Linked DNA regions of Homo sapiens. The protein of the gene in region 1 purifies or fractionates together with the protein of each later gene. This does not show direct contact. Each region holds a gene or a part of one and is shown in the gene's direction. Other genes may lie near its edges. The genes, in order: ENDOV, ZNG1A, ANKRD40 and PASK.

Region 1 (8,396 bases):
TGTCTGTGACTCCCATCGATCAGTTCTGCCTTCAGGTAGCAAAACAGAACGGATCTTCCCTGCCTTCTGCTTGTCAGCCCTTCTGCTGCTGGAAACAGCTGCCTGCTCCTTGACCACACTGTCCCAAGAGGCTGCGATGACGTCCAGCTTCTTCACTGGTCAGTGGCCCTCTGGTCATGCCCTCCGTTCACACAATCCATCTTTCCGTCTGCACTCAGAATCAAATGCAGGAACTTGGATGTGGTCTACCCAAGTCCCTAGACCTAACTGTCACCCACGCCATTTCAGTCGGTGTAGCTGGAAACACTGGTAGCTTTTGAGGGGCACCAGGTCACTGGCTTATGTTGAGATTGCTGGTCATCCAGACCTGCCCCCTACGCTAATCATACAGTGATTTTTCTTTTCCCAGATTTTTAATTTGAAAATGTACATACATCCCCCCAAATTGGAAAAGGATACGTTGGACACCTGTATTCCTTCTACTTAGGTTCAGCTGTTGCTGCTCTGGAATATTCTCTCTCGCGCACATGCGCTCTTTGTGTGCGTGTGTACCGTACATCCCAGCGACTGTGACAGCTCAGAAGACATCAGCAGGCCTGTCCTGAGAATGACATTCTCCTCCACAGCCACAGTGTCATTATCATACTGATTACACATCATAGTCATCCCATAATGTCACCTGAATGATAACATTATGGGAGAGATTCAGATGTAAGCAGCCACGCCCCTCCTGTGGGAACTCAGGCCACACTTGAATTCCACATGTCACTGTGCAAAGTGACTTTTACTCTGTGGGGATGTCAGTGATCCAGCCTGCTGGCTTCTCTGTGAACCCAAATTCTGTTATCAGAATGGACCCTCCCCACTTTGGGTCATGGGCAGATTTGATCAGTTTCCCCATTGAGTCATTGATGAAGATGTTGTGAGAATGATCCCCAACCCTCTGTGCTAATACAGAGCACTCCGTCTGCTTTGGTGTGTTTAATTATTGATCCAGCCACAAGTGAGGAGTGGAAGTTGTGATTTGAAAGCTGTCACCAAGAGATTTGGGGGATTCAGTAACAAAACTGCAGGAAGGTAGACAGGTCTGCAGAATGTGGACATAGTGGGAAACGTCTTCACATTAAGGGCAGTGTGACTAAGGAAAACACAAGGTTAGGAGACTCAGGCCTGCCATGTTGTGCTCTAAACTGCAGCCTCTGCCTCCTGGGTTCAAGCAGTTCTCCTGCCTCAGCCTCCCGAGTAGCTGGGATTACAGGCATGCGCCACCACGCCCAGATAATTTTGTATTTTTAGTAAACACGGGGTTTCTCCATGTTGGTCAGGCTGGTCTTGAACTCCCAACCTCAGGTGATCGTCCGCCTCGGCCTCCCAAAGTGCTGGGATTACAGGCGTGAGCCACCACGCCTGGCCAACACTGTGTCTTCTTTAAGCCTCCAACAACCCATGGAGGGGTGGGGTGGGGCATCGGCTTCAATACACAAAGGAGGAGACACCAGGAAAGCAAGGGGCAGGCAGAGGTGATGCAGCCAGCAGCCTTAGCCTTGCTTCTGATGAAGACCAGGTCCTGGGGGGCTCCCGCGGACCTGATCCCAGGGAATCCTCCTATGGACCAGGTCCCGGAGGCTCCTCCTATGGACTAGATTCCAGGGAATCCTTCTACAGTCTAGGCTTCAGGGGCTCATCCTATGAACTAGATCCCGGGGAATCTTCCTATGGACCGGGTCCCGGGGAATCCTCATACAGACCAGATCCCGGGGAATCCTCCTATGGACCAGGTCCTGGGGGCTCCTCATACAGACCAGATACCAGGGAATCCTCCTATGGACCAGGTCCCAGGGGCTCCTACTATACACATCAGGTCTGGGAGTTGGGGCTCCTCCAGTGGACCGGGTCCGGGGTGGGGGTTCTCATATGGACCGGGTCCCAGGGGGCTGCTGCTATGGACCAGGTCCCGGTGGGGGCGGGGTGGGGGTGCTGTTGCTACAGACCAGGTCCCGGGGGAGCTGCTGCTACGGACCAGGTCCTGGGGGGGTCTGCTCCTATGGACCAGGTCCCGGGGGTACCTGCCCACCACCAATTTGCAGGGTACATCTTCTAGTTCCTTCTTCCAAACCCATCATCTCATAGGTGAGGCAGGGAAGGGGAGCCATGAGGGTGACGTAAGGGAGAGGGAAGGATGAGGGGGGCAGGGCATGGACGGACTGGGGATGGAGCAGGTGGCCGAAGGCTGTGCTTCCCACTGAGCTGCGTGCCTGGTGTCAGGTGGTGTATGAGGAGAGCCGCATGGTCAGCCTCACAGCCCCCTACGTGTCGGGCTTCCTGGCCTTCCGAGAGGTGCCCTTCTTGCTGGAGCTGGTGCAGCAGCTGCGGGAGAAGGAGCCGGGCCTCATGCCCCAGGCAGGTGTCTCATCCCTAGGACGAGAGAAAGGTCCCTCCTTCCCCCTGGGGGAGGGAAGGCTGCTGCAGGTCGCCACCACCACAGTGGCAGGGAGAGACTCATGAGCTTCCTGGAAGAGAGGAATGAGGATTTCTAAAAAGCTGGACCCCAGAGACAGTGCCCCCTTCTTGCCTCAGGGATGGCCCTGTCCTGAGGGCCGAGGGGCAGCTCAGCTGACTGTGACTCTCCCTGTGGCTCCATAGGTCCTTCTTGTGGATGGAAACGGGGTACTCCACCACCGAGGTAATCCTGCTCTTGGAGGTCCAGGGAGGGCACTGTGGGGAAGAGCGGGGGGAGAGGGCACCTCTGTCGTCCCCCACAGAAAATGCTGGGCCCTCGGCCTCTGCCGCCAGCCCCCTCCAATGGCTTCTTTCTCGGCGCAACGGGGACGCGCAGTGCGCTCAGCCCCGCCTCCCCCACCGCCGGTAAAGGACTGTCTACTTTCGCTTCACCCCTTACCTCTTTCCTGTCCGCCACTGCCTTCTCTACAGTGCCCTGTGCTGGCTCATCTCCAGGTGCCACTATCCAGTTCTGACCTGATCACCAAAAGATGTCCCAGGGCCCGGGCTCAGAGTGGCCTTCCCTGCCAGCCGCCCAACCTGCATGGCCCGTCAGGCCCCTTGTCCACAACTAGACAGGTGTACCCAGGCCCCCACTGATGCCAGGAACCTTGGCCTAGGGAGCGTGGCTGAGGGAGATGGGCTCTTTTTTTTTTGAGACGGAGTCTCGCTCTGTCGCCCAGGCTGGAGTGCAGTGGCGCGATCTCGGCTCACTGCAACCTCCGCCTCCCGGGTTCATGCCACTCTCCTGCCTCAGCCTCCTGAGTAGCTGAGACTACAGGTGCCCATCACCACGCCCGGCTAATTTTTTTGTATTTTTAGGAGAGACGGGGTTTCACGTGTTAGCCAGGATGGTCTTGATCTCCTGACCTCGTGATCCGCCTGCCTCGGCCTCCCAAAGTGCTGGGATTTCAGGCGTGAGCCACCGCGCCCGGCCTAGGGAGATGGGCTCTTTTACTGTTACATACAGAGCTGCGGGCGGCGCAGCAGCACCCAGAGAGGGCCCAGGAGGGGTGACATTGGGCCTTCCTGGCCAGCAAGTGTGACTCGGCCCTGGCTGCTGCCCTCGCACATGGGTGCAGAGCCAAAGGGTTGTCATGTGCCGACCCACATGCTCGTGCCAGCGCTGGCAGGCCACCGTCGAGGGAAGAGGAAGCTGGGAGGTGCAGGAAATGACCGGAGAGCTGCAGTATCCCAGCACGCCAGCGAGGTGCTGACCCTGGCACTGACCGTGTCAGAGAGAAGGAGGCTTCCTCCACGGCCTTGCACCCAGGACATCGGGCACAGGGGGCTTTCGCCCAGGTCTGCTTGGGACTTAGATCTGGTTTCCCCAGCCCTCTGCCTGTCCACAGACCTCTGCTCACTTAGGGAAGCTTTTGGTAAGACTGGCTTGTCCTGAATCCCTGTGCCAGGCCCCAGCCCCACCTCCCCAACCCCACCCTCCTTTCTCTCTGGCAGGCTTTGGGGTGGCCTGCCACCTTGGCGTCCTTACAGACCTGCCGTGTGTTGGGGTGGCCAAGAAACTTCTGCAGGTGGATGGGCTGGAGAACAACGCCCTGCACAAGGAGAAGGTGAGGAGGGGCCTGCTGCAGGCCATGCCCGGCAGCTCAGTGGCGGGGCTGTGGTGGCCCTGGGCATGAGGACACTTCTGGACCAGCCCTTGCCTGCTGACGCTGCCCTCCTCATCCCTGGCTTGTGGCCTGGAGTAAGAAAGACCTGCTTTCCTCTGGGTGCTGCATTGCCTGTCTCAGCTGAGGGCGCTCTGAGCTCCTCTCCTGCCTCCTGGGTGTGCCTGCCTCTCTGGTCCCCCTTGCCTCTGAGCCACCGTGGCACACCAAGTAGGGCTAAGTCCTCCAGTTACTGGGGACAGGACGGGCTTCCAGGCTGTCCCGGGCGCACTTGGTGCTTTCCCCACCCCGCCTTGCCCCAGCCCCTGTCTCCTCCCCTGCATGCTCAGGTACCACAGCCTCCAGGCCCCCCTCCCGCCAAGACCTGCCTGGAGCTGCCACCCACACTCTTCCTACCTCACCTTCCCCTGCATCTTCCTCCTCTGGGACCCCATGTTGGCACTGGGAGTGAGACACTCACAATGGAGGGAGCTGTTGACACCCCCAGCTGTTTCACTGGATGGCAGATTCTGAGAGCAGAGACTGTGTCTCTCATTCCTCCTAGCTCTCAGGTGCCTGCATGGAGAAGTTGCTTAATAAAAATCTGTTGAGTTGATGGGGACCTTAGACCCACTCAATGAGCCAGTCCACCGCCGCCAGAAATACCAGCCTGTTGAGCTGTGTCAGATGTGCCCAAAGCAGGAGAGAAGCCACAGGAAGGAAGCGGGCTCAGCACCCATCACTGGGCAGTGGCGGCACCTGTGTGGCTGCCAGCCTGGCACAGCGGCCCTGGGCAGATTGTTGCCCTTGTTCTAAGCCCCATCATCAGGTTTGAACAGGGTCTTGTGGGCAGCACCCTCAGCTCAGGGACAAGACCACTTCACCGCCTGCACGCTCAGTGTCGTCTCAGGTGGTGTGGCTTTGCCTGGGCTGTGGCTCACCTCCAAGATCAGTCCCCTTCCCTTTCCTGGCCCAGTGACTGGGTTTTAAAAATAAAGAGACCTGGGCCGGTTGCGGTGGCTCACTCCTGTAATCCCAGCACTTTGGGAGGCCGAAGTGGGTGGATCACGCGATTAGGAGATCGAGACCATCCTGGCTAGCATGGTGAAACCCCATCTCTACTAAAAATACAAAAAATTAGCCGGGCGTGGTGGCACATGCCTGTAGTCCCAGCTACTCAGGAGGCTGAGGTGGGAGAATCGCTTGAACACGGGAGGCAGAGGTTGCAGTGAGCTGAGATCGCGCCACTGTACTTCAGCCTGGGCAACAGTGCGACACTCCGTCTCAAAAAATAGAGACTTGCCTTCAGCCCTTCACCAAGAAGAGAGGGGTTTTTTTCCCCATTTTTCCCTCCATTTTCCAGATCCGACTCCTGCAGACTCGAGGAGACTCATTCCCTCTGCTGGGAGACTCTGGGACTGTCCTGGGAATGGTGAGTAGCTAGGGCCCTGAGCTCCTCCAAAGCCCCGGGGTAGGGGATCCTTTGCAGGCAGACACAGGTGCATGCAGACACGCGTGCACTCACACTTGCCCACATCAACCCCCCGCCTGCCCGTCCATCCATCCTCCTGCCTCTGACTGAGTCCAGGGTGTGATGTTTGTGTTTCTTTCCTCCAGCCGTGCTGAGGGAGCCCACCCTCCCCCAGGGACAAGCAGCAGGAAGGCGCCCTGAGGGTGGGCAGGCCCTGGCCCCTGAGAGCACTGCCCCTTCAGCTTCCCCCTTGCCCCCAGGACATTTTGTCAGAGCTCCAGCTGCTGAGGCTGTCCTGACCCTGGTCCCGGTGGCCCAGCCCACAGGACAGCCCTCGCCTTCCTTGTCACAGGCCCTGAGGAGCCACGACCGCAGCACCAGGCCCCTCTACATCTCCGTGGGCCACAGGATGAGCCTGGAGGCCGCTGTGCGCCTGACTTGCTGCTGCTGCAGGTTCCGGATCCCAGAGCCCGTGCGCCAGGTGGGTGTGCTGGGGATGCGGGGAGGCAGCACAGGCTCCTCTGCTTCCTGCCACCTGCTGTTCAGGGCTCCCCAGCAGCTCAGCTGGGGTCAGAGTGCAGTGACATGAGGACGGGGGTTCCTGGGCCGAGGACAGGTCACAGACATCTTGCTGGAGAGCTTGCTGGGCCCTGCAGTCAGGACAGTAGACTGGGGGGTGCAGGGCTCCCAAGAGTTCATCCCCAGGCCCTGCACCCCATGCACTCAGCCTCCCAGCCTCTCTGAGCCTCCTGCACCCAGATACAGGCCAGCTTGGAGAATCAGTGATGTTAGCTCAGGTGGTGAGGTGTCCTGCCAGTTCCCAGCCAGCCCCTCAGGTCCCAGAGGGAGCAGCTGAACTTGAGCCAGGAGGCTCCTGCAGGAAAGCTGTGCAGGCCCCAGAGACGCCAGTCTGGGGACTTGGGTATGCCCGCCCCAGGACCCAGCACAAAACTGGTGTTCGGTCCCCCAGGAAGGGTGAGAACTCTGCTGAAGCCATCAGCTCAGCTGAGAAAGGACTCAGCCTGTGGGCCAGGGAGAGACAGCTGGCACGAGATGCCCACAGACAGCCTCGATAGGACCAGGGGACCACAAGACACGGGTGGATGCTGTCCCAGAGAAGCCCACAGAGTGAGGGTTCAAGAAAAGTCAGTCTTAGGAAGAGACCCGCTGGAGGAAGGGGAAGGACAGCCCTGGGCAGGAAGGAGTTTGATGTGCTCAAGAAATGGGGGGCCCGGAGGGTGGCTCACGCCTGTAACCCCAACACTTTGGGAGACAGAGGTGGGAGGATCACTTGAGCCCAGGAGTTTGAGGGCGCCCTAGGCAACATAGACCCCGTCTCTACAAAAAAAACGTAAAAACAAATTAGCCAAGTGTGGTGGTGCGTGCCTGTGGTCTCTGCTACTTAGGAGGCTGAGGCGGGAGGATCACCTGAGCCCAGGAGGTCGAGGCTGTAGTGTGCCCTGATTGGGCCACTGCACTCCAGCCTGGGTGACAGAGCAAGACCTTATCTCAAAAAAACTTTAAAAAACAAAAACTCAGCAGGAAGGTGTGGCCGGAGCCAGATGGCAGTGAAGTACAGAGTGGGTGGGAGCCCGTGAGCATCTTGGGGTGCGCCAGGGTTTCAGACGTCACCCACAGGGACTTGGATGGCTGTGAGTTGGCAGCGGGGCGCCCGCAGATTGGCCTTTTTAGGTGGCCGCTGTGCGTGCTGTGGAGGCTGTGGACGCAGGTCTGCACAAGCCATGCTGCTTCCAGCAGCCCAGCCCCTGAGCCTCCCTGGTGTCTGCCCCTTCCCCATCTTACCCCACCGCTTGCCCTGCAGCCTGCCCTGGGGCAGCCGCAGCACCGGTGGAAAACCCCCAGGCCACCACCTTCGGGCCGGGGCCTTCCGGCTGCTGGCGCGCAGTGTGGCCTCCAGGGGGCAGCAGCAGCCCACATACCACAATGGCCCTCGCCCTGGGGAGCTGTGCTCAGTGGTGGCGTCTGAGAGCGGGCTCCACAGCCTTGCAGGGCTTTGCTCAGGGCACAGGTGTGTGGACTCTCAAGCCTGTGAGCTGTGTCCCCAGCCCCCAGGAAAGAGGCCTTTCTTCCTCCATTCCAACTCAGCCGTGTGGTCTTCCGAGAGAGAACCCAAGAAACTGTCCCCCAGGCCTTCAGCCACAGGAACTTTAGGTCGTGCTGCTGCTGCAGACAGCACAGTTCCTGGAGCTCCTGTACCTTTTTCTGCCTCAGCGCGCCCCAGAGTAGGACAGTGGCCCATCCTTGCAAGGGAGGGGACACCTGGCCTGTGAGTACCTTAAGCATCTAGAAATAGAGCAAGGATCTGTGCCTAGCACCAGCAAAGAGCCTGCCAAATCCTGGGCCCACCCTCCAGAGGAAGGAAAGCCGCAACCAGTTGGGATATGCAGCCACCCCGTACCAGGAGCCCGCAGCTTCTTACTGTTGGGCGTGAGCCGAGGATCGTGTCCTGCAGGGCTGGCTCTGTCTCTCGGTCCATTTTCTTCCTGAGCTCACTCACCTCTCAACAGGTTCACCTCCTGCTCTGTTCCAGAAGGTCCTGGGAGAGCACAGACGGGGTTAGTGTTGGTCTGCTCTCTCCCTGGCTCCGCGCCGGGCCGTCTTGGTGGCCCCATGGTCACAGGCGCTGCGGCGCTCCTGGTTGCCAGGTCCAGGCTCTCCTGCCAGGCCAGGCTGGGCCGCTCCAGGGGAAGGTGAGAGGTGCTGGCCCCGCCTACCGCTGCCCCACTTCCCCCATGAATGGAAGCAGGAGCAGGCTGGGGGATTAGCCGTTGCTTTCCATGAGTCGTGCAGCCCTGAAG
Region 2 (8,396 bases), on another chromosome or scaffold:
TCATCTTATTAAATAACCTATTGCACACTGATTACATTTATTCTTACTATTTTCTTTATTTTTTCCTGGATCATTTTTGCAATTTTATTTTTCACAGCATTCTCAATACTTTTCTTCATGTTTCATTAATGTTCTGTATATAGTCCAAATTCTGTAGCAACCTCTTTAGAAGCTCTTTATTAATACCTAGCTGAAATATAAAAAATATGTAAGTGTAAAACTACTCGATTTTATGGGAGCTCATTTGCTTAGTGGGCTTTTAGAACTTCACTGTTTGGTATATTTCTTTATTAGAGGAAAAGTAAAACATTTAAAATAATTCTTATAGATAACAAGCATTTCAAATGTAGTTTATTCTTTCTTAAGTAAGTATTGCTAGGAAAATATGTGAATTTGACTAAAAGTTTAGGTTTTTTTTTTTTTTTGAGATGGAGTCTCGCTGTGTTGCCCAGGCTGGAGTGCAGTGGCGCAGTCTCGGGTCACTGCAACCTCCGCCTCCCGGGTTCACGCCATTCTCCTGCCTCAGCCGCCTGAGTAGCTGGGACTACAGGCACCCGCTACCACACCTGGCTAATTTTTTGTAATTTTAGTAGAGATGAGGTTTCATTGTGTTAGCGAGGATGGTCTCGGTCTCCTGACCTCGTGATCCGCCCGCCTTGGCCTCCCTATAAGTTTAATTTTTAAATGAGCACGTGGTACACTGGCCAAAAACCTTCCTCAAGATGAACTAGGGTTTTTACTCATTGGGAATATTCAGCAGTTTGTCTAACAGAAACAATTTAGAAGAAGAATGAAAAGAAAAAGATAGATAAGGCAGTCTCTTAAGAGGTTGAAGGGCATACAAAATCCAGTATATAAAACATACTGGTCTATTTAGAAAGTTTACCCTGGACAAGAAAAAAATGCCTTCAAGATAGCTACTTTATTAAGAAATGGGGGTGGCCAAGTAAGAGGCCTAAGGAGGAAGTAGGTATGTTTATCAGTTTAGGATGTGTCTTTTTCAGGGCTTAAGTCATCTTAAATAAAAGCTAAAATAATGTAGTGTACTGTAATTTAGATATCGAGGCTGCATGAATAAAATGAAAGAATATAAGTTATAAAATGCAGTTTCTGCTTTAAGATCTCCATTATTGAGTTATCCTCATCTTTGTTTTTTTTTGGCTAATGGACATAAGCTAAAGAGTGCTGTTTGTTAATTATTCTAGGAAGTGCGCTGGAGAAATCCTTAGCTGTCAGCCAAGGTGGAGAGCTCTATGAAGAGTGGCTGGAACTTAGAAACGGTTGCCTCTGCTGTTCAGTGAAGTGAGGAATGTGTTTACTGTGTACATGGTTTACTAGAAATGTTTATTGATTATATTTCCAGCTTTAATTTTCTTGAGTAATTTAACTGAATTTACACAGTTTGCTTCATTGTATTTTCAAACAAATAGAAAATAAACTTATTAGGAAGCATTTTCTTAAAGTGTTTCTTGCTGTCTTTTCTATCTGCTCTAATGTTTTGGTCCTTTTATTGAGTTTTTATTGCTTTTGATGTCAGGGCTTATTTAATCTCTAGTGCATGAAAGTCTCATATGTAAAAAATGATTATTCTGAATTTAATCTGTCATTGGTCATACTTCTAAGTGTTCAATCTTATAAAAAAAATAAATGACTATCAAAAAAGAGAAAAACCTTACGTTATGTTCTACTAGTTAAGTTTTCAAGGACAGTGTTCACTAGTCTACCATAGACCCTAGAAGAGTTACCCAACACATAGTAGCACTCAAATATTTGTTGAATGAATTATAAAAATGACTACTTGTACTGTTAATTTTGTGTATTCTAGTGAATTAAATCTCTTCGGCATCATTTACTCCCTTAGGTATTTGACTTTGTGTCAAATGTTTTGGCAAGGATAAAATTATAACAGACTTTCTTGAACAACCAAAATATAATCTATTAAGGATTTTCCTTCACTTTTGATAAAATAAGAAAAAAGGAAATTAAAACCTTGCATCCTAATGTAAAATAGAATTATATGGTGTTTAATATCAGTGTCTCTTTAGCTATTATATTAAACTACTATAGTTAATACATTTTATCATTATTTTGTATGTTGGTTTTTAAAAATTTCATAAAGCTATAAAAAGATACTTGGTCAGATAAAGTTTCCTCTGCTTTTAATTTTGATAAAGTATTATGTATATGATTTCTTTTTACCTATTATATATATGCATCTATTGTTTTCTCACTGGTAAATATGGGACGGACATTTTGTTAGAAGGTTAGAAGTGAGTTAAATTTTCACATTCCCAAGGGTACTTTTGTCTCGGGTTGTTGAATATATTTTAAAGTGTTTATAATAATCACTTCAAAATATTTAGGTAATTAACTGTAAATTATGTTTTGGTATTCTCCAGGGACAGTGGCCTTAGAGCTATTGAGAATTTGATGCAAAAGAAGGGGAAATTTGATTACATACTGTTAGAGACCACTGGATTAGCAGACCCTGGTAAGAAGTGAGATTATTAATAACCAGAATATAGTTCTGTGATATATTGTAAATAGATGTATTAGAGGAATATCTAAAATGAGGATTAAAGCTTTTGTTAGTATTAAACCAAAAACTTTTTTTGGTTTAAAAGAGGAAAAGTACTCGGTTGTCATTTTCTTTGGCAGTTGAATGAATGAACAGAGTATTTCTTGGTACTTTTAAGCTGTTAATAGAATTTGAAGTTTTATTGATTGACTTAGGATTATTTGTAAGAACAGAAGTTGTTAAAAATAAGGACATGTAGGAAGAGCAGAGACGTTCTACCTCTAAGTACAGTTGTCCCTTGGCATCCATGGGGTATTAGTTCCGGAATCTCTGAGGATACCAAAATCTATTAATGTTCAAGTCCCTTACATAAAATGGTGTAGTATTTGCCTATAAGCTATGCACATCCTCCCATATACTTTAAATCATCTGTAGATTACTTATAATACCTAATACAATGTAAGTGCTGTGTAAGTAGTTATTACACTGCATTGATAAGGGAATCATGACAGGAAACTCTGAACTCTACTATGGAAAGCTACACAGAGTCAACCTGTTTCTAACAATGGGTTTCTGTTACCTTCTTACCAAGCTCTAATTCTTGATAAAGTCTGCTTATTTTCCCCAAATAACTTTTAGATAAAATCTTTATTTTCATTTTGCATAAAAGTTAGTGCTTATTCTGTGAATCTGACCCATACCATTATTTTTTTTTTTGATCTGGGTCTCTGGCATTGGGGCGATTTGTAAAACTATATTAAAGTATTTGGGGGTAATTTACTCAACAGGTCATAGTTGTCCAAAAGAAATATTGAAGTATCCTGAGAGTTCAAATGTGATCAGTGGTTATTGTACTTAAAACAATTACATAATAACATCATCCCCATGTTTTCAAAGTAGTATTGAATTAGGCTATTTTGGTCCTTATAGTAGGCATGGGTTTTCATACCTTTCTGATAAATCTGACTGATGATAGGACTTGGACTAATATGTTGGTGTTAAATATTTGAATCTGGTAAGAAAGAAAAATATATTGTATGCTTTTATTAGAAATAGCAAATATCAGTTTATTTCATCATAGCCAGTTTTGCCATTTTATAGACAAAAACTTGATACTTTTGAGAGTTTAATTAAACACGATTCAGCTTTTCAGAGGAAGAAAGAAAAACTAAAGATCACAGAGAAAGCTTTTATACAAATTGTAGTTATAAAAAATGTTAATGTTTCTTGCTTCTAACTTTCTTTACAATAAAGATTTTATTGTTTGGGTAAAGATGGAACATTCATTGTAAAAAAATTTAAATACCTAAAAAATACAAAGAAGAAAGTTGAAAAGTAATCATCTCACTTTTGTGATATACAAGTAGGGGCTGGGCATGGTGGCTCATGCCTGTAATCCCAGCACTTTGGGAGGCTGAGGCAGGTGGATCCCTTGAGGCCAGGAGTTCAAGACCAGCCTAGCCAACATGGTGAAATCCAGTCTCTACTGAAAATTCAAAAACTAGCCAGGCGATGTGGCGCACCCCATAATCCCAGCTACTCAGGAGGCTAAGGCAGGAGAATCGCTTGAAAGCTGGGAGGCGGAGGTTGCGGTGAGCCGAGATCACGCCACTGCACTCCAGCCCAGGCAACAGAGCAAGACTGTACACACACACACACACGCACATGCACATGCGCACACACACACACACACACACATTCATACACACACACACACAAGTAGGTACATTTTATTCCAGGGATCTCTCTATGCCAGTGCTACTTGGTAGTATGTTGAATGGCAGCCTCAGCCTCAGCTGGGAGCTTGTTAGAAAGGCAAATTCTTGACCAACCCAGATCTACTGAATCGGAATCTCTAAGGGAGGGGGTCAAGCAAGCTGTTTTTAATAAGCCCTTCAGGTGATTCTTATACTGTACAGCCATACCGCAGGGATATTGTGGGCTTAGTTCCATATCACTGCAGTAAACTGAATATCACAATAGAGTGAGTCACACACATTTTTTTGTTTCCCATTGCATATAAAAGTTATGCGTTTTGGCCGGGTGTGATGTCACAGGCCTGTAGTCCCAGCTACTTGGGAGGATCACTTGAGCTCAGGAGTTTGAGGCTGCAGTGAGTCATGATTGCACCACTGCACTCCAGCCTGGATGACAGCATGAGACCCCATTTCTTAAAAAAAAAAAAAAAAAAAAAAAAAAGCTGTGTTTATACTATACTGTAGTCTATAAAATGTGTAATAGAATTGTCTAAAAAACATACATACCTTAATTAAAAATATTTATTGCTAAAAAATGCTAACAATCATCTCAGCTTTCAGCAAGTCATAGTCTTTTTGCTGGTAGAGGGTCTTGCCACGATGTTGATGGGTGCTGACCAATCAGGGTAGTAGTTACTGAAGGTTGGGGTGGCTATCGCAATTTCATAAGATAATAATGAAGTTTGCTGCATTAGTTGACTCTCCCTTTCATAAAAGATGTCTCTATAGCACATGATGCTATTTGATAGCATTTTACCCACAGTATGACTTCTTTCAAAATTGGAGTCAGTCCTCTCAAACCCTGCTTTATCAATTAAGCTTCTGTCATATTTTAAATCCTTTGTTGTCATTTTGACAGTGTTCATAGCATCTTCACCAGGAGTAGATTCCATCTCAAGAAACCACGTTCTTTTCCCGTCCATAAGAAACAACTTCTCATTAGTTAAAGTTTTCTTATGAGATTGCAGGAATTGAGTCACATCTTCAGACTCCCCTTCTAATTCTAGTTCTCTTACTGTTTCCACCACATCGGCAGTTATTTCCTCCATTGAAGTCTGGAATCCCTCAAAGTCATCTGTGAGGGCTGGAATCATCTTTCAAACTCCTATTCATGTTGATACTTTGATCTCCCATGAATCACAAATGTTCTTAATGGCATCTAGAATGATGAATCCTTTCCAGAAGGTTTTCAATTTACTTTGCCCAGATCCATCAGAGGAATCACTGTCTATGGTAGCTATAGCCTTATGAAATATATTTCTTAAATAAGACTTAAAAGTCAAAGTTACTCCTTGATCAGTGGGCTGCAGAATGGATGTTGTGTTAGCAGGCATGAAAACAACATTAATCTTGTACATCTCCATCACAGCTCTTGGGTGATCAGGTGCGTTGTCAATGAGCAATAATATTTTGAAGGAATCTTTTCTTTTCTAAGCAGTAGATCTCAATGGTGGGCTTAAACTAAACCGTGCTGTAAACAGATGTGCTGTCATCTAGGCTTTATTATTTATAGAAAACAGGCAGAGGAGATTTAGCATAATTCTTAATGGCCCTAGAATTTTTAGGATAGTAAATGATTATTGGCTTCAACTTGAAGTCACCAGCTGCTTTAGCCTCTAACAAGAGAGTCAGCCTGTCCTTTGAATCTTTGAAGCCAGGCATTGACTTCTCTATAGCTATGAAAGTCCTAAATGGCATCTTCTTCCAAAAGGAGGCCATTTCATCTCCATTAAAAATCTGTTGCTGGCCGGGCTCGGTGGCTCATGCCTGTAATCTCAGCACTTTGGGAGGCCGAGGTGGGCAGTTCACGAGTTCAGGAGTTCAAGACCAGCCTGGCCAACATAGTGAAACCCCATCTCAGCTAAAAATACCAAAAATTAGCCTGGCTTGGTGGTGGGAGCCTGTAATCCCAGTTACTTGGGAGGCTGAGGTAGGAGAATGGCTTGAACCCGGGAGACGGAGGTGGCAGTGAGCTGAGATTGCACATTGCACTCCAGCCTGGGTGACAGAGCGAGACTCCATCTCAAAATAAATAAATAAATAAATAAAAAATAAGTCTGTTGCTTAGTGTAGCTACTTTCATGAATGATGTTAGCTACATCTTCTAGGTAGTTTACTACAGCTTCTATATCAGCATTTGCTGCTTTCCCTTGCACTTTTATGTTATGGAGATGGCTTCTTTCTTTAAATCTTGTGAACCAACCTCTGCTACCTTCCAACTTTTCTTCTCTAGCTTCCTCACCTCTCTCAGCCTTCATAGAACTGAAGAGAGTTAGGGTTGCTCTGAATTAGGCTTTGGCTTAAGGGAACATTGTGGCTTGTTTGATCATCTATCCAGACCACTTCATATCAGCAATAAGGCTGTTTTATTATCATTTGTGTGTTTACTGGAGTAGCACTTTTAATTTCCTTCAAGAACTTTTCCTTTGCATTCACAACTTAGCTAACTGGCTCAAGAGACCTAGCTTTTGGCGTATCTTGGCTTTCAACATAACTTCCTCACTAAGCATAATCATTTCTAGCTCTTGATTTAAAGTGAGAAACAGGTGACTGTTCCTTTCACTTGAACACTTACAGGCCATTGTAGGATATTAATTGGCCTAGTTTCATGTTGATCATATTCTTTATGTTGTCATGGTTCTGTCATAATTCTTTTAGTTCTATGTTTTAATAGTTTTGGTGCTTATTACCAGTACTGTTGCTTCTCCATTCCCGAGTTAGTCCATCTCCTGATTGAATTTCATTGTCAGGCAGTCTTTTCAAGTTACAGGTACTGCATGCATTCTTTGGGTTCTTATACACTTCATTGATTCAAAATATTTGTCTTTTGTTTTTATATTACTTGAAGGATTACTTGGCTAGGTATAAAATTTATCAGTCACACTTTATTCCCCCTCAACTTTGTAAATGTTGTTCCATAATCTCCTAGTGTTTGATTGGCTGGATTTCTTTGTCCAATGTTTTCTCTTTTTATTAGGAAGAATTTGTGAGTATTATAGTCTCTGAGTTTCAATGCTTGCTGTTTTCTTTAATGCTTGAGAATGTCTGTCTATTGCTTTCGTTCCTGAAAAATAACTTGTTTGGGAACACTTTCATTAGAACTTTGTGGTCCCTGTTTTATTATTTTGGGACATCTAGTGTTACTGTAGAAAAGTCTGATTTTTCTCCCTACCTCCTTGAAGGCAATTTTTTTTTTTAATCTAAAATGCCTGAGAGTTTTCTTCTTTATTTTTGAAATTCAGTAATATAAACAAGGTATATCTAAGTGTCACTTATAATCATTTTTCCCTAAATTATAGTATGCCCTTAGTTCTTCTAAGAACATTTTCCTTGTTTATTACCATGAATACTTTTTTTTGGTCAAATTATTAGATCCTCTACTTCATGACACCAGTTTTTTTAATACTGAATTTTCTTTTGTTGTTCGTATGTATTCTAATTGCTTTGATTTGTCTTTTACCTTTGCATTTACTGTGATCATCTGAAGCCTTTCTTTTTGTCAATAATTCTGTTTTCTCCAGTGTCTGTCCTGTTTTTGATATTTTAAATGAATTAATTGGTTAAGTCATTGTGTTATATAGGCTCTAAGTTTCTTTAGCGCTACAAACGCATTTTCATCTTATTCTGCTTCTTCTTGCTTTTGAGCTTGTTTATTATAAGGTTGTATTGTTTTCAAGTTCTTCATTATGATGAAGTTGTTGAGAATTTTCTTTAGTTTTTATTGGGTTATGTATCCTTCCAGAATGGGTTCTTTGCCACTTGTGTGCCCTATTCATTTCTTCATTTTGTGTTCTTTCTTGCTTTTTATTCCCTGTATGTGCGTGTTTCTTTTTGTCAGGCTGTAATACATATGCATACATGTTTCTTCTTGATGTGGGAGAACTTCTATGTGGTGCTGATGGGAAATATTTTTAATACTCCACTCTCCTTACCCAAGTTTGTTTTTCTCCTGAGCCCTAGTTTGAAAGCTGTATATTGTTGGAGTGGAGGGAAAGAGAAGGGAAAAGTGGTGATTCAGAGAGCCAAATGGGGCAATGTGGCTTTTAGGCTCTGCTCTCTTGAAGTACCAAGTATTTCACTCTTGGGTCTGCCCAACTGCTTATGAATAAAATTCCTTTGCC
Region 3 (7,063 bases), about 30 Mb from region 1:
TCTCGATCTCCTGACCTTGTGATCCGCCTGACTCTGCCTCCCAAAGTTCTGGGATTACAGGCGTGAGCCACCGTGCCCGGCCAGCTCAGATAGGGTTCTAAGTGTTTTACATGTGTTAGCTTGTTCACAACTACCTGGGGACATAGTTACTGTTCTCTCCATTTACAGATGAAGAAACTGAGGCCCAGAAACCGTAAGTTGTTTCCTCACTTTTCACAGTGCCCCTTCCCAAGGTCATAGGATTGACAGTAACTAGTGGAGCCAGAAAACAAACCTGGTATCTGATGCCAGACCTACCCTCCTAAACACAATGTCTGCCCCATAGGAGGTGTTTAGTGAAGTGATTCTGAGGTAGCCTGAAGAGGCTTCTTATAGGTTTTTTTTTTTTTTTTTTTTTTTGAGATGGAGTTTCACTCTTGTCACCCAGGCTGGAGTGCAATGCGTGATCTCAGCTCACTGCATCCTCCACCTCCTGGGTTCAAGCGATTCTCCTGCCTCATCCTCCCAAGTAACTAGGATTACAGGTGTGTGCCACCACGCCTGGCTAGTTTTTTGTATTTTTAGTAGAAATGGGGTTTCACCATGTTAGCCAAGCTGGTCTCGAACTCCTGACCTCAGGTGATCTGCCCGCCTCGGCCTCCCAAAGTGCTGGGATTATAGGCGTGAGCCACCGCGCCCGGCCTCTTGTAGATTTAATTGGAGGAACTGTCTAATAGGCCCCTCAAACTCAACATGTCCAAGATTGAATTCCAAGTCTCCCCTCATCCCTCTACCACCTCAAGCCTGCTCCTCTGAGTCCTCAGCCTCTCAGGAGTGCTCAGGCCAGAACCCTTGGCACCCTGCTTGCCTCCTGCTTGCCTCCTGTCTTTCATAGCCGACATCCAGTCAGCCAATTCTATGAGCTCCACCTTCAGATACAGTCAGAATCTGACTACTTCTCACTAACCCTACCACTACACCTCTGATACAAAGCCACCATTGTTTCTCTTGCTTGGATTATTACAATAGCCTCCTACTAGTGTCCTTGCTCCTAAGCTTATATCATACAGTCTTCTTAATTAACACAGTGGTCAGAGGGATCCTGACTTAAAACATAAGTCAGATCATTTCACTCTGCTCAAAAATGGCTCCTATCTCACTCAGTAAAAGCCTACAGGGTCCTACAATTTCTACTTCCTGTCCCCACATCTTCCCTCCTTACCTCTGTGCTAATCTCATGGGATTTGCCCTTCTGCTTACCTTTTTCCCCTGGCCTCCTTGCTTTCTCTGGAATACCAGACAGTCCTGATTCAAGATCTTTGCGTTTTGTCTTCCCACTCTCTTAAATGCTTTCCCTCCAGATATCACATGGTTTGCTTCCTCACCACCTTCAGATTTTAGTTTAGATGTCACCTTCTTGGCAAGGCTTTTCCTGGGCCCTCAATTTAAAGTTGCACAATGCCCCTTTCCAACCTCTGTCATTCCCTAATGCCTTTCCCTGCTTTACTATTGCTGTCATACTTCATCACCACCTAGCGTACTGCGTGCTTTGCTTATTTATTTGCTGATGTCTGTTTCCTCTTCTGTAAAATGGGGGGAATGTTGACAGTAGTATTACCTCATGGGTTTAGAGGATTAAATAAGTTAATACATGTAATGCCTTTAGAACAATGTCCAACACGTAAAGCATTATACCTGTATTAGCCATTGTTGTTGTTTTCTTATTATGAAGCAATATGCTAGATAATGGAATATAAGGTTACCCTCAAAAAAACGTACTCTCTTGCATTTGCAAAGCAGAATGGTGACTGCTTTCAAGTCTTAGTTGCTCAGTAATCACAATTTCAGCACCAATGAGTGATGCCCTGTTGATGAATGACACCCAGTGCCTCAGGTCTGAAATAGTTTCTGACACTAATAAGATATTTTGACTGCAAATGTAAAGCTTAAGGAGTTGAAGTTCAAAGATAGAGTAATCTATCAATTAGATTGATCACTAATCATTCCCCCACATCAGTTGTAATTCAAGTGTCATGCATAACCCTTGGTTCATGAAGAACTTGAAAATATTACCTGGCTGCAGGGGCTCTGAGTTATGGCTGCCCAGAGCCGCACAGCTCTGGACGGTAAATGATGATCACTAAGGCACAGGGCTGTGGGGGCCACGCTATGTTGACTTAACCCTGCTTTACATGGGTGGTAGTTTAGCAAGTTGGTTTGTCCCAGAGTCTCTCAGACCCACTGGTAGTAAATTACCTCCTTTACTCTCAAGCTTGCCACGAACAAGTGATCTACTACTAGCAAGTGAGCATTTTATTTCCAAAAGGGAGCATATTTTTCTCATCATGCTTCATTCATTTTTGAGGGCTCACTTATCATTATAATTGTTCACTTTTTAAGCCTGTGCCACAGACATCCACACACAAACACACTCAAGGTTCCAGTTTGCCCAGAATCAAGGGTAGATTGGATCCTTCTACTTCAAGCAAGGTCCACTTTATCCTTAGTTTACTCATTTGGTACTTTTTTTTTTTTTGAGATGGAGTCTTGCTGTGTTGCCCAGGCTGAAGTGCAGTGGCACAATCTTGGCTCGCTGCAACCTCCACCTCCTGGGTTCAAGCAATTCTCCTGCCTCAGCCTCCCCAGTAGCTGGGATTACAGACATGCACCATCACACTAATTTTTGTATTTTTAGTAGAGATGGGGTTTCACCCTATTGGGCAGGCTGGTCTCAAACTCCCGACCTAAAGTGATCCACCTGCCTTGGCCTCCCTAAGTGCTGGGATTACAGGTGTGAGCCACCGTGCCTGGCCCATTCAGTAAATATTAATTAATACATGCCAAGCAAACACTTCCTTGCCTTCAGGGAGCTTGATCAAGACTCTTCTCTCCCAAACTTAACGAGACTCTTATTTTTCCCAAATTAGCAATAATTTTGTCATTGCATCATGGAATACACCTTAAAGGAACCTGGATAATCTAATTCTAATGAACCATAATGTAGAATGTCACTCTGAGACATCAATGGAATTGCTCCCAGCCAGCCAGACATGCTAACTTTCTGTAAGTTACTAATGTTAAGCCCAGGGCAAATCAGCTTTTTCCTGGAATCATATAAACTTTCCAAATAATTATACTTCCCAGGTTAGTGAACTAACCTTCAATATTGAACATTTGTTCTAATCTTCATTTCTGTATTTGGCTATAAGAGCTCTGAAGATATGTATCTCAGTTCAGTTAGAGAGTTGGTGAAAGAAGACCTTTCAAAACACAGGCGAAAAGTATTTTCCTTCCATAATATACAGTCAGCTCTGGCACCTAGGGATGGATTTAGTTGCTCTGAATCTTTCATTTCTGTTAAGATGGAGTTTTTGCTGGCATGCTAATTATGTTTCTGTACAGTATTAAAATAGTAGCCCTTCAGAGTGTGCAGAATTGCTTCCTCTGTGTACAATATTGAGTGATTAGTTTTACTTAAATGAGTCTGATATGTTAGAAGAACCTGTTCGTGAAGAATTTTGGTTGTTGATGTATATTTTTTAAGTACCTCAGGAATTAAAGTATGTGTGCAGTGCCTTACATTTACGCAGATGAGGATATGTTTGTAGCCTTCTGGAGAGAACTAGAGAAGCCAACTTTTTAAAAATGGAAATTTGGAAATCCTTTGTGTGTGTGTTAAGGAAAGAAAAGTAAGAAGGAAAAAGAAAGTGAGCAACTGGGATTCAGGCAAGAATATCTGCTGTCATAATAATAATTTAAGTGACAGAGCAAGCTGCTGATAGGAGATGGTTATTATCCTGATAATATTGAATCTTCAGGTGGCATATGAAGTGAGTTTCCATAGTCCCTGAAAAGGAATATAGCAATAGAAAAATATGTTTCAGAGACTGAGATGATCTAATGAGCGATACTGATAGAGTATATTCCACGGTATCATTGGAGTTAGCCAGCCAGTGAGCTTACCTTCTGGAGGCTATTGAAATTAAAACTCCTAGGTTAAGTTAGTTTTTCTCAGGAGCCAGAAATGAAATTTAAAAACAAAATTTAAGCATATTAAATATTTTGCTCATCGGCTTTGTGAAAAGTTGAGATTACCAGCCCGGTTACCTGGTTCTAGCTGAACTCTAACAGGCTTGTTTATACATTATTTACTAATGTTTAGAATCTGAAATCCAAAATCACTTCTCCTCTTTTTCAATCATTATTTTCTTTGGTACAGGACTTGTTTACACTGGGCATGTAAACGAAACCATGGTCAGGTGGTCTCTTACCTGTTAAAATCAGGAGCTGACAAAGAAATTCTTACCACAAAAGGAGAAATGCCAGTCCAGTTAACATCAAGGAGAGAAATCAGGAAGATTATGGGAGGTGAGTCTGTGTTTGGGGGAACTTTTGATTTCCTCAGACTCATTGAAGACTTGTGGTATTATTGGCTACGTTCTTAATGCTGGTCAAACAACTGCTCTATTTCTTTCTTTTTTTTTTTTTTTCCGAGACGGAGTTTAGCTCTTGTTGCCCAGGCTGGAGTGCAGTGGCGTGATCTCGGCTCACCACAACCTCTGCCTCCCAGGTTCAAGTGATTCTCCTGCCTCAGCCTCCCAAGTAGCTAGGATTACAGGCATGTGCCACCACGTCTCGCTAATTTTGTATTTTTAGTAGAGACGGGGTTTCACCATGTTGGTCAGGCTGGTCTCAAACTCCCGACCTCAGGTGATCCGCCAGCCTCAGCCTCCCAAAGTGCTGGGATTACAGGCATGAGGCACCGCTCCCGGCAACTGTTCTATTTCTAAAAGCAAATTACTGTGCCAAGATAGTAATTCCAGATTGTTTCTGGGGAGGTCAGCATTGTAAGGTTTTATTTTTTTATTTGTAAAATTTAAGATAATGATAAAAATGGTAATCATAAACCTAATGAAGTATTCTTTTTTCTTCTGACCTGACACTGACCAATGTCACATACCAAAAGACACCACTTTCAAAAGACACCTTGTTTTGATAATTTTGAAAGGACTGTGTAAATGTTCTGTTTTCTTCTTTTTAAGTGGAAGAAGAAGATGATGATGATGATGATGATGACAACCTCCCCCAGCTGAAGAAGGAGTCAGAACTGCCCTTTGTTCCCAACTATTTGGCCAACCCAGCCTTCCCTTTTATCTATACACCCACAGCAGAGGATTCAGCCCAGATGCAGAATGGGGGCCCCTCCACACCCCCTGCATCACCCCCTGCAGATGGCTCACCTCCATTGCTTCCCCCTGGGGAACCTCCCCTGTTAGGGACCTTTCCCCGGGACCACACCTCTTTGGCACTAGTTCAGAATGGTGATGTGTCGGCCCCCTCTGCCATACTCAGAACACCAGAAAGCACAAAACCGGGTCCTGTTTGTCAGCCACCAGTGAGTCAGAGCCGCTCCCTGTTTTCTTCTGTCCCGTCCAAGCCACCAATGTCTCTGGAGCCTCAAAATGGGACGTATGCAGGACCAGCGCCAGCATTCCAGCCATTTTTCTTCACTGGAGCATTTCCATTTAATATGCAAGGTAACCCCTCATCAGCAAACAGCCTCTGCAACAGGGGAGTTGGTGTCCAGAGGGGTGGGATTTAATGAGGTATTCTGGGTATAATTGCAAACTTACAGAAACGTTACATGACTAACATAAGGAACTCCCTTTACTCAAATTCACAAATTGTTTACCTTTTGCCCTTTTACCCTGATACCCTTCAGTATTCTTTCCATTATATCTTTCCTAAGAACAAGGATATTCTCTCTTTTTTTTATTGAGACGTAGCTTCGCCCTGTCACCCAGGCTGGAGTACAGTGGTGTGATCTTGGCTCACTGCAACCTCCGCCTCCCAGGTTCAAGTGATTCTTCTGCCTCAGCCTCCCAAGTAGCTGAGATTACAGGAGCATGCCACCACGCCTGGCTAATTTTTTTTTTTTTTTTTTTTTTTTGTATTTTTAGTAGAGATGGGGTTTCACCATGTTGGCCAGGCTGGTCTCAAACTCCTGACCTTAAGTGATCTGCCTGCCTCAGCCTCCCAAAGTGCTGAGATTATAGGTGTGAATCACCGCACCCAGCTGGATATTCTCTTATATAACTACAGTACAAATGACCAAATTTGAGAAATGTAATCTTGAGCTAATGCTGTTCTGTAATCCATAGACCATGTTTAAATTTTGTCAGTTGTCTCAAACATTGCCTTTTGTATTCCCTCATCTACTATACGTACTGTCTGTACTATTACAGAAATAGTACTATCTGTACTATTGATATCTATCTGGACTATCTGTACTCCTCTGCCCCCTGCATCCTGCCCAGGATCATATGTTGCATGTAGTTATCACGTTGTTTTAGTTTCCTTTAATCTGGAATCTTTACCCTTTATCATTTTTGATCTTGATCTTTTTGAAGAGTCCAGGCCAATTATTTTTGTGGGATATGATTTTCTATCATTCTTTCTCTACTTATTAGTTGGTATTTTACTGTAAAGAAGGGCTTTCCCTTCTCCTTCATTCATATCAGTATTGACTCATATATTCTTATTTTATTCAGTGGGTTATAATCTGTTACTATCATTTTTTAATTATTCAAATTATCCCAGATTTGGCCAGTGGGAGCCCCTTGAAGCTAGTTCTTATGTCCCTTGCATGTGTCTTCATTGTTCTTGGAGCACTGCCTTACTTTCTGGGGCAGCAAGATGTTCCGGGCTTATAGCATAACTTTTCCTGCCCCAACCCTGGAATCAGTCATTTCTCCAAGAAGCCCTGGTTCTTTTTGGTGGAGAATGGTATTTAGGGCACACAGCAAACTTGCCTCCCACTTGGGCCCACCGAGAATGGTATTCAGACACCAGGATGTGGTCACTAGGTGTCCTCATTGCTACAGGTATATCATTTCTTCTAGGCCCGTTGAGAGGACATAGCCAGGAAAGATATCAATATTTCTCTATGTATAACTTTTTAAAAATATTAAAAACCACAAGTTCATCCTGATTCTTCCAAATCCAGTCAAATGCCATAGGGTGTAGCTAGTCTTACTTTTCCTTTTTTCCTGGAAGTAACTCTCTCACTTCCTGTTTTTGAGGA
Region 4 (8,396 bases), on another chromosome or scaffold:
TTAATGTTCAGTATGGGAAATCTTGTTTGTGCTTTGGTAAATTTCTGAAATGAAAATCAGGTAAGCAGAAGTTGAAAACGTTGCAGTGCCTGGAGTTTGGGCCTCCTGGAGGCAGGTGCCCCACCCATACTGGTCTTTTGGGTTCATGGCATGCAGGTGTGAACCTGTCTGTTTCCACAGGTGGACATCATCAGCCGTAGTGGGGAGAAGATTCCAGTGTCTGTGTGGATGAAGAGGATGCGGCAGGAGCGCCGCCTATGCTGCGTGGTGGTCCTGGAGCCCGTGGAGAGGGTCTCGACCTGGGTCGCTTTCCAGAGCGATGTGAGTGTGCAACTTTGCCTCATGTCTCATGGACGCTGGAGCCGGCGTCGTTCTCCTCTTCAGCAAGTGCTGGTCCCTGTCTCATTCCTTTGGGAAGAAAGAGAGGATGAGGAGCCTGGAGGGTCTGCCCAGTGGTACCCTCGCTGATTGCGTGTGCTTGGGCAGGGAACGAACTTCCTATACTTCAGTTCCTCACCTGTGAACTGGGGCATAATCATAACTCCTCATAAGATTGTTTCAACATTTAAATGAGATAATATATGTAAACCCCCCAGGATAGTAGCTGGCATTAGAGACAGCCCTCATATGTGAACTGGGATGTTATTAATGAGCTGTGGTGTGGGCCAGGCTCCTGAAGAACAAGAAGGCCCACAATTTAGGTACGTCTCTGGTAGAAGGAGACAGATGATGAAGCTCTTATCAAATTCATGTGTATATGTCTCTTGCCCTTCCGATGGAGAAGTCATGTTGGGGTCTTGCTTTTGGCTTGAACATATTGAAGCTTAGTTAAATTTACAGCTGGAGCACAAGAAGCTTTTATGATAAGCACGGGGCTTTTCCTCCAGGGCACCGTCACGTCATGTGACAGTCTCTTTGCTCATCTTCACGGGTACGTGTCTGGGGAGGACGTGGCTGGGCAGCATATCACAGACCTGATCCCTTCTGTGCAGCTCCCTCCTTCTGGCCAGCACATCCCAAAGGTAGGGCTCCTGACCTCCCGCACTGTGTGATGGGGTGGAGTTCTTAGCTCTGAATCCATAACTGGAGACGCAGACCAAGGGTTTCTGAAGGCAAGGGTGGCCTTAGGGGTGGGACATGCTCAGTTTTGAGCTTCCTGTGCGCTGAGGCCTTGACCAAGGGCCGGAGCCTATGTGGTCTCCCAGCTGACCACTCTTGTCCCCTGAGTCTTCTCCCAGGAGCTGGGCCACCCACAGAGGTGGATGCTGGGACGCTGCCCAAGGCTGAGGGGTGGGAGGTAACATCCACAGCTGCGCAGCTGGTGTAGTGCTGCCTGTGGGGCCAGTATCCTGGTGCCAGATCAAGGATGGCACAGTTGCCAGTGGCGTGGCTGAGCCCCGAGCCTGAGCCCCACAGTCCTCCCTCCCTCCCTCCCTGCTGGTGCCCGGCCCCTCACTGGGGTGTCTCACTTGCCCTGGGGTTGCTGTGCCTGGGGCGGCTCTGGACACTGAGTCCTCCCCACCCACAGAAGGGCTCTTTCCTGGGCCAGCTGGGCCTGGGAGGAGAGGGAAGGCAGAGCAGTGTGGGTGTGAGATGTCCTGGGGACCTTCCCCGATGACGTGGGGTAGAAGTCGGGTCGGACGCAGCACAGACTCAGTGCTCTGTCCACGTGAAACACGGCTTAAGCCAAACGACAAGCCTTTCTTTCAGAATCTCAAGATTCAGAGGTCTGTTGGAAGAGCCAGGGACGGTACCACCTTCCCTCTGAGCTTAAAGCTGAAATCCCAACCCAGCAGCGAGGAGGCGACCACCGGTGAGGCGGCCCCTGTGAGCGGCTACCGGGCATCTGTCTGGGTGTTCTGCACCATCAGTGGCCTCATCACCCTCCTGCCGGATGGGACCATCCACGGCATCAACCACAGCTTCGCGCTGACACTGTTTGGTTACGGAAAGACGGAGCTCCTGGGCAAGGTGGGGCTGCCCTGGGCGCCTGGCTCCCGTTCCCTGGGAGGAAGCTGCTGTGCTCTGCAGTGCGGGCTTGCGTGTGGCACAGGCCTCGCACCCGGCAAGCTCTCCAGCTCGCTCCTTTACCCAGGAAGGACCTTGGGTCCAGGGAGGGAGGTCCCTGCTCATGGCTGCCAAGCTCCTTCCTCTCCACCCTTCCCCAGCAACCACCGTCGGAGGGAGAGGAGCACTGTGCTTCGAAGCCCTGAGAGATCTGGTCTGACTGATGGACCAGGGTTTACGACACAACTGCGGGGGTTCATTTCTCACCCTAGTAGAAATACTAAAAAGTAGCTAAGCTGAATTGTAGTTACGTTAAATTTAAGTTAGTTAAAAAGCAGTTAGTGTTCTTCCTGGATGAGGGGTTCCCACAGGAGCTGAGGGCATTGAGACCTTGCAGGGATTTTGGGGGCATGGACACTTGTGCCCTCTGTGAGGTTAGAGCGGGTTCTGGCATTACAGCTATGGGCAGTGTCCCGGTGAGGGGGCCACACACAGGTTCAGAGGAAGCATCTGTCAGAGCAGCTCCTGGCCTGGGAGGAAGGCCCCACAGTCCTTCTGTCCTGGGTGCATGTCACTGTTCCGGCCACCAGTGAGCCGCGTGAGGTGAGGCTTGCAAACACAGGCTCCCAGATCCATCTAAACATGGGGCCAAAGGCCAGATGTCTGCTCCAAAGATGTGTCGATGTCACTGTAACTTGCCGCAGAGTATGTTTTTACCTTTTTCTTAAGGGGAAAATCACAGATCACATGTTGAGCATCTGAGGGGCTTCAGGTGCGTCGAAGGGCATTTGGCCCGAGGCCTTTCCTGACCTTAAGGGTGAACCCTCAGGGACTGGCTCTCCTTGTGTTCATTCCTCCCCCAGGGGGACGGTCCAGTGGGTCAGCGTGGATCCTCCAGGTTCTGAAATGTCCCTGCTTTGTTTTCTAGAATATCACTTTCCTGATTCCTGGTTTCTACAGCTACATGGACCTTGCGTACAACAGCTCATTACAGCTCCCAGACCTGGCCAGCTGCCTGGACGTCGGCAATGAGAGTGGGTGTGGGGAGAGAACCTTGGACCCGTGGCAGGGCCAGGACCCAGCTGAGGGGGGCCAGGGTAAGACGTCCTCTTCCTCCTGAATGCGCCTGTAGCTGCTGAGCCCCAGACAGCCCCATGCCTCTGAGACAGGGCTGGGAGGAGCAGGAGCTATTGTCCCTCCAGAGGCTCAGGGGTGGTGGGGGGCGGAGTAGGGGGTGACTGTTTTCTGGTTTGATGTTCCTCTCTGTCTCGGGGGCTGTGACATATTCTTATAAACATATGAGCATAGAGAAGAGAATAGAAAACCCCCCAAGAGTGCATCACCAGTGCCCATGATATCCGAGACACAGCATCCGAGACACAGCTAACTGACCGTCTTGTCTTTTCTAAGTAAACTTATATAGCTTCATGTAGTTTAAGTGAAGCCATGTAGCATATCGGATTACCGCTGACCCTTGAACAACTGGGTTTGACATTAGAGGGTCCACTTATACACAGATTCTTTTCAACCTCAGAAATCCAGTACTGGTGGGAGGTGAAGTTGGCGTATATGGAGGGCTGACTTTCCATGCACCTGCGTTCCACGGGTGGGCTGTGGGACTTGAGGGTGCTCGGATTTTGGCATTCTGGGGGTCCTGGAACCCATCCCCTGAGTGTACTGAGGGTTGACTGCAATTCCTAAATTGAATGTTCTACCAGTATTTCCTGGTTTAATTATGTTTATCCCACATAGTTTTAATTTAACATTTTAAATGATTTCAACAAATACTCCGAGTCCCTTTCATATGCACAGTCTTAGGTGTGTGGCTTGTGAAGACAGGGTGAGCACACTGCCTCCTGTCCCGAGGGACCCACTCTGGCTGGGAGCAATGAGGGGCAGTAGAACCCGCTGATGTCCTGGCAGGGCCCACGCCTGAGCTCCTGGTAAGGAGCAGGCCCCTGGCTGCTTCCACAGTGCTCATTCTTGTTGACAAGCATGGGGTGGGGGTGCGCCCTGTCCCTGGCTCTGCCCTGGTGGGGACCCCGGAACTCTGCCTCCAGGGCCTCTGCCCACCTGGAGCGTGGGCTCACTGGGTGTGGTTCTGGAGTTCCTGGGGCAGGCTGGGGCCCAAGGGTCCAGGTGATGGTGTGGCAGGGGTGTCAGGTGGGGGGGTCTCTGTTCTATGGAAGGACACAGTGGGGGTGAGAGAGAGAGAGTGGCCAGTGCTGGCAGAAAGCACAGCCACCTCGGGGCTCTGCATCGTGGTGGGGCCAGGCGGGTCGGCAGGTGCTGGCTTGCGAGGTTGTCCTGCATGCGGTCACTCGGGTATCGAATGAGTGCGAAAGTGGATTTAATACAGTCACTGAGAAAAACTACAGCTTCACGAGACTGACCAGCCTGGTGAGATAAACATTTACCGTCAGACACTCTTTAGCTGTCTGGGCATTGTGTGAGTTCTTTGGCACATGCGCCCAGCCTCCTTCCCCACAGGGTCTCGCCTGGGGCATTAGAAGCTGGATTGTAACATTTGTTTTAAAAGATACTTTGTTAGGCTGTTGGTTCTCCTTACAATCCCGGCTTTCCTTAGCATGTGGTTCCCTTCATTGTATCTGGGTTTTTCTATCTCAGTCTGTCCTTTATACAAGCTTTTTCCTCTAGCACTAATTATATTCCCCTTCCCCTTTTTCCAGAATTCCAAATTCTGACCTGTGCATGCATGCCTGTGTTGAGTACATGCTGTTTGTCGGATATTTGGTGGTGGGGGGAGGGGATCACATTTCTGTTACTCTCGCATTGTTTCCTTAGGATGAATTCTTAGAAGTGGAACTTCTGGATTCAGGGAATGAACACGTTTGCTAGTTACTGTCAAAAATGCCTCTTGGAGAAGTTATGCCGAACCACCCAACTGTCCTGGTCACAGAGCAGGCTTCTCTCGGCTTGGGGCTAGGGTTCTTTCTGGGGTCGTCCTTTTTTTTTTTTTTTTTTGAGACAGAGTTTCGCTCTTGTTGCTGAGGCTGGAGTGCAGTGGCACCATCTCGTCTCACTGCAACCTCTGCCTCCTGGGTTCAGGTGATTCTCCTGTCCCAGCCTTCCGAGTAGCTGGGATTACAGGGATGTAGCACCATGCCTGGCTAATTTTGTGTTTTTAGTGGAGACGGGGTTTCTCCATGTTGGTCAGGCTGGTCTCGAACTCCCAGCCTCAGGTGATCTGCCCGCCTCGGTCTCCCAAAGTGCTGGGATTACAGGTGTGAGCCACTGTGCGTGGCCTCCCAGGGTCCTTCCTAATGCAGGCTGCTTTCTCTCATGTAACCAAGAGACATACATTCATCCCCTACCACGTGCCAGGCTGCACTGCGTGCAGATGCCCCTGCGCTCACGGGGACTGGAGGGAGCCAGGTGACATGGAGCCCAGGAAGTGGCCAGAGCTCGGGAGGAAGGCAAAGAGGGGAAGAGGGCATGCAGTCTTAGGCTTGGGGTCCCAGGAGGCCTAGGGAAGCCTTGTAGATACCCAGGTACAGCATTTCTGGGATCAGGAGCCATGATCCCAAGGCCTCTAATACTTCAGATATGGCAGGGAGGCCAGGTGGAGAGACCTGGAGGAGTGAGGCCACAGAGTTGGGGGGCCATGGCCGAGACTTCGGCTTCTATCCAGAGTCAGATGGGAGCTGTTGGAGGGTTGTCAGCAGGTGAGTGCCGTGCTCTGACTTGGGTGTTAATAGGATCATGGTAGCTGGCTGCAGGTGTCCTGGGCCAAGGAGCAGGGAGACAGGAGGCAGAGAAGAGGGCGCTGGGTTGGACCTGGGACGCCTGGGGTGGTGAGAGGTGGTCGATGCTGGTCATGCTGTGAAGCAGTCTCAGTGAGTTCCAGGCGAATGAGCAGATTCGTTTTAGGGAGTGCCTGTGAAGAGCAAACGCTCTTTTTTGGTGTTGCTGCCAGATCCAAGGATTAATGTCGTGCTTGCTGGTGGCCACGTTGTGCCCCGAGATGAGATCCGGAAGCTGATGGAAAGCCAAGACATCTTCACCGGGACTCAGACTGAGCTGATTGCTGGAGGCCAGCTCCTTTCCTGCCTCTCACCTCAGCCTGCTCCAGGGTAAGTCCCTTGGTGGGAGGTTGCAGGTTTACTAAAAGTCCAGACAGATGGTAGGTGAATGAGGAACAAGTCAGAGAGAAATGTTCAGCCTATTATTCATAGTAACATTGAAAACTCACATGTGTTGAGCACCTGCTCTCTTCCACACACACTGACTGCTGGGTTTTCTGTGCTGCCTGGCTGAGTCCTTATCAGCCTGTATGGGAGGGCACCATGGTGTTACTGTCTCACTGTAGGGATAAGGAAACAGGCTGTGGAGAGTTCCAGAATGTTGAGGTAGATTTCAGAGAACTGATGGAATCATAATTTTATCATTTTCTTTTTTTTTTTTTTTTTTTTTTTTTTTAGACAGAGTCTCGCTGTGTCACCCAGGCTGGAGTGCAGTGGTGCGATCTCAGCTCATTGCTCATTGCATTGCAAGCTCCGCCTCCCGGGTTCACACCATTCTCCTGCCTCAGCCTCCCGAGTAGCTGGGGACTACAGGCGCCCGCCACCACGCCCGGTTACTTTTTTGTATTTTTTTTAGTTTCACCATGTTGGCCAGGATGGTCTCGATTTCCTGACTTTGTTATCCACCCGCCTTGGCCTCCCAAAGTGCTGGGATTAATTTTATCATTTTCAAAGTCATATGAAGCTGTTCTCTTTGCACATTTTAAAATATTCTATTTAGAGTAAAGAAAGTTTATATTAGAGAATTAGGAACATTTGGAAAAGTAGAAATAAAAACTTGTTCTATTCTCATAGTCGTATTGTACATAGCACGTGTGTGTGTATTTTTAACCCATTTTCTTCTTCGGAATCTTTTTTTTTTTTTTTTTTTTGAGATGGAGTCTCACTCAGCTGCCCAGGCTAGAGTGCAGTGGCGTGATCTTGGTTCACTGTAACTTCTGCCCCCTGGTTCAAGTGATTCTCCTGCCTCAGCCTCCTGAGTAGCTGAGACTACAGGCACCTGCCACCACGCCCGGCTAATTTTTGTATTTTTACTAGAGGCGGGGTTTCACTATGTTGGCCAGACTGGTCTCGATCCCTTGACCTCATGGTCCACCCGCCTTGGCCTCCCAAAGTCCTGGGATTACAGGTGTGAGCCACCATACCTGACCCAGAATCTTTTCTTATGCACAGCATGCAGTAAAGGTGCCCAAACTGTAGGTGCCCAGGTGGCCCAGGACCCTTTCTTGGCTGCCTGCAGACCCTGGGTCCCTTCCTGCACTGTGCCCCCTACACCCTGCTGCCCTGGGTCAGGGCAGAGGTTAGACTGCCTGCCGTTGAGCCTGACGCATGCATTTCCTTCTGTCTGCCTTCTGCTTATTGCTGTGTCTGTGATATTTATCCACATAGTTGTGTTTTCTAGTCTTGAAATTATTTAAAAAATATGTAATAGATACATATAAAGTATGTATGTATGTTTAAAAATATGTAATGCATGGGCCAGGCGCGGTGGATCACGCCTATAATCCCAGCACTTTGGGAGGCTGAAGTGGGTGGATCATGAGGTCGGCAGATGGAGACCATCCTGGCTAACACGGTGCAACCCCGTCTCTACTAAAAATACAAAAAATTAGCCAGGCATGGTGGCGGGCGCCTGTAGTCCCAGCTACTCGGGAGGCTGAGGCAGGAGAATGGTGTGAACCTGGGAGGCGGAGCTTGCAGTGAGCCTAGATCGCGCCACTGCACTCCAGCCTGGGCGACAGAGTGAGACTCCGTCTCAAAAAAAAAAAAAAAATGTAATACATGCATATGTGTTTTTTTAATTATAGAAGAATAATGGTAAAAGCAATAGTTCCCCTGGCCGTCTTCCAATCCCCCTCCTCCAATCCTACTCTTTCCCCCAGGGGACCGCAGTCAGCAGTTAGAGCCTTCCAGGCCTTCTTTCTTGTGCATTTAACTATAGTTGTATATTATACTTCTATGTGTGCATGTGCATATGTGTGCTCACATGTAACTGCTTCTGTTCCCTGAGCACGGCTGGGATTATACCATACACAGTGTCCTAAATGTGTGTGTATGTGTACGCACACACATGTCCTGCAGATCTTCCTCTACAGGCCTCCTCGGAACCGAAGCCTCCTGGATGGCACCCTAGCTCATGGGCCACTTTCCCACTGGCCGATGTGCCGGTGCTTTCTCTTGTTTGCTTAGCCTCCCTGATTTTCCCTTTGCCACTGTGGGTCCGCGTTGAGTGGCGTGAGAGGGTAGCTGTTGGCTCTATTTGCTCTACTTCCACTGCGAGTGGAACAGAGCAGGCGCTCAACACGTGAGTTTTCAATATTACTATGAATAATATTGCTGTGCGCA

The links.
Region 2: the proteins of ENDOV (region 1) and ZNG1A purify together in Homo sapiens (affinity purification with mass spectrometry; one large-scale study listed by BioGRID and IntAct). This does not show direct contact.
Region 3: the proteins of ENDOV (region 1) and ANKRD40 purify together in Homo sapiens (affinity purification with mass spectrometry; 3 studies listed by BioGRID and IntAct, with this or other methods). This does not show direct contact.
Region 4: the proteins of ENDOV (region 1) and PASK purify together in Homo sapiens (affinity purification with mass spectrometry; one large-scale study listed by BioGRID and IntAct). This does not show direct contact.

Annotation. Positions count from the first base shown.
Region 1 is NC_000017.11:80,419,563-80,427,958, forward strand, and holds part of ENDOV (endonuclease V), read left to right. Parts: exon of another isoform or gene 1-711; intron 712-2,265; coding exon 2,266-2,400; intron 2,401-2,643; coding exon 2,644-2,683; intron 2,684-3,321; exon of another isoform or gene 3,322-3,571; coding exon of another isoform or gene 3,572-3,878; intron 3,879-3,957; coding exon 3,958-4,070; intron 4,071-5,469; coding exon 5,470-5,538; intron 5,539-5,896; coding exon of another isoform or gene 5,897-5,929; coding exon 5,930-6,058; intron 6,059-8,105; coding exon of another isoform or gene 8,106-8,288; intron 8,289-8,396.
Region 2 is NC_000009.12:166,176-174,571, reverse strand, and holds part of ZNG1A (zinc-regulated GTPase metalloprotein activator 1A), read left to right. Parts: intron 1-1,205; coding exon 1,206-1,302; coding exon of another isoform or gene 1,303-1,306; exon of another isoform or gene 1,307-2,083; intron 2,084-2,399; coding exon 2,400-2,491; intron 2,492-8,396. UniProt on the Homo sapiens protein: Zinc chaperone that directly transfers zinc cofactor to target metalloproteins, thereby activating them.
Region 3 is NC_000017.11:50,697,852-50,704,914, reverse strand, and holds part of ANKRD40 (ankyrin repeat domain-containing protein 40), read left to right. Parts: intron 1-4,198; coding exon 4,199-4,347; intron 4,348-5,021; coding exon 5,022-5,516; intron 5,517-7,063.
Region 4 is NC_000002.12:241,130,579-241,138,974, reverse strand, and holds part of PASK (PAS domain-containing serine/threonine-protein kinase), read left to right. Parts: intron 1-180; coding exon 181-321; intron 322-887; coding exon 888-1,022; intron 1,023-1,710; coding exon 1,711-1,971; intron 1,972-2,935; coding exon 2,936-3,104; intron 3,105-5,137; exon of another isoform or gene 5,138-5,545; coding exon of another isoform or gene 5,546-5,693; intron 5,694-5,944; coding exon 5,945-6,101; intron 6,102-8,396. UniProt on the Homo sapiens protein: Serine/threonine-protein kinase involved in energy homeostasis and protein translation. Phosphorylates EEF1A1, GYS1, PDX1 and RPS6.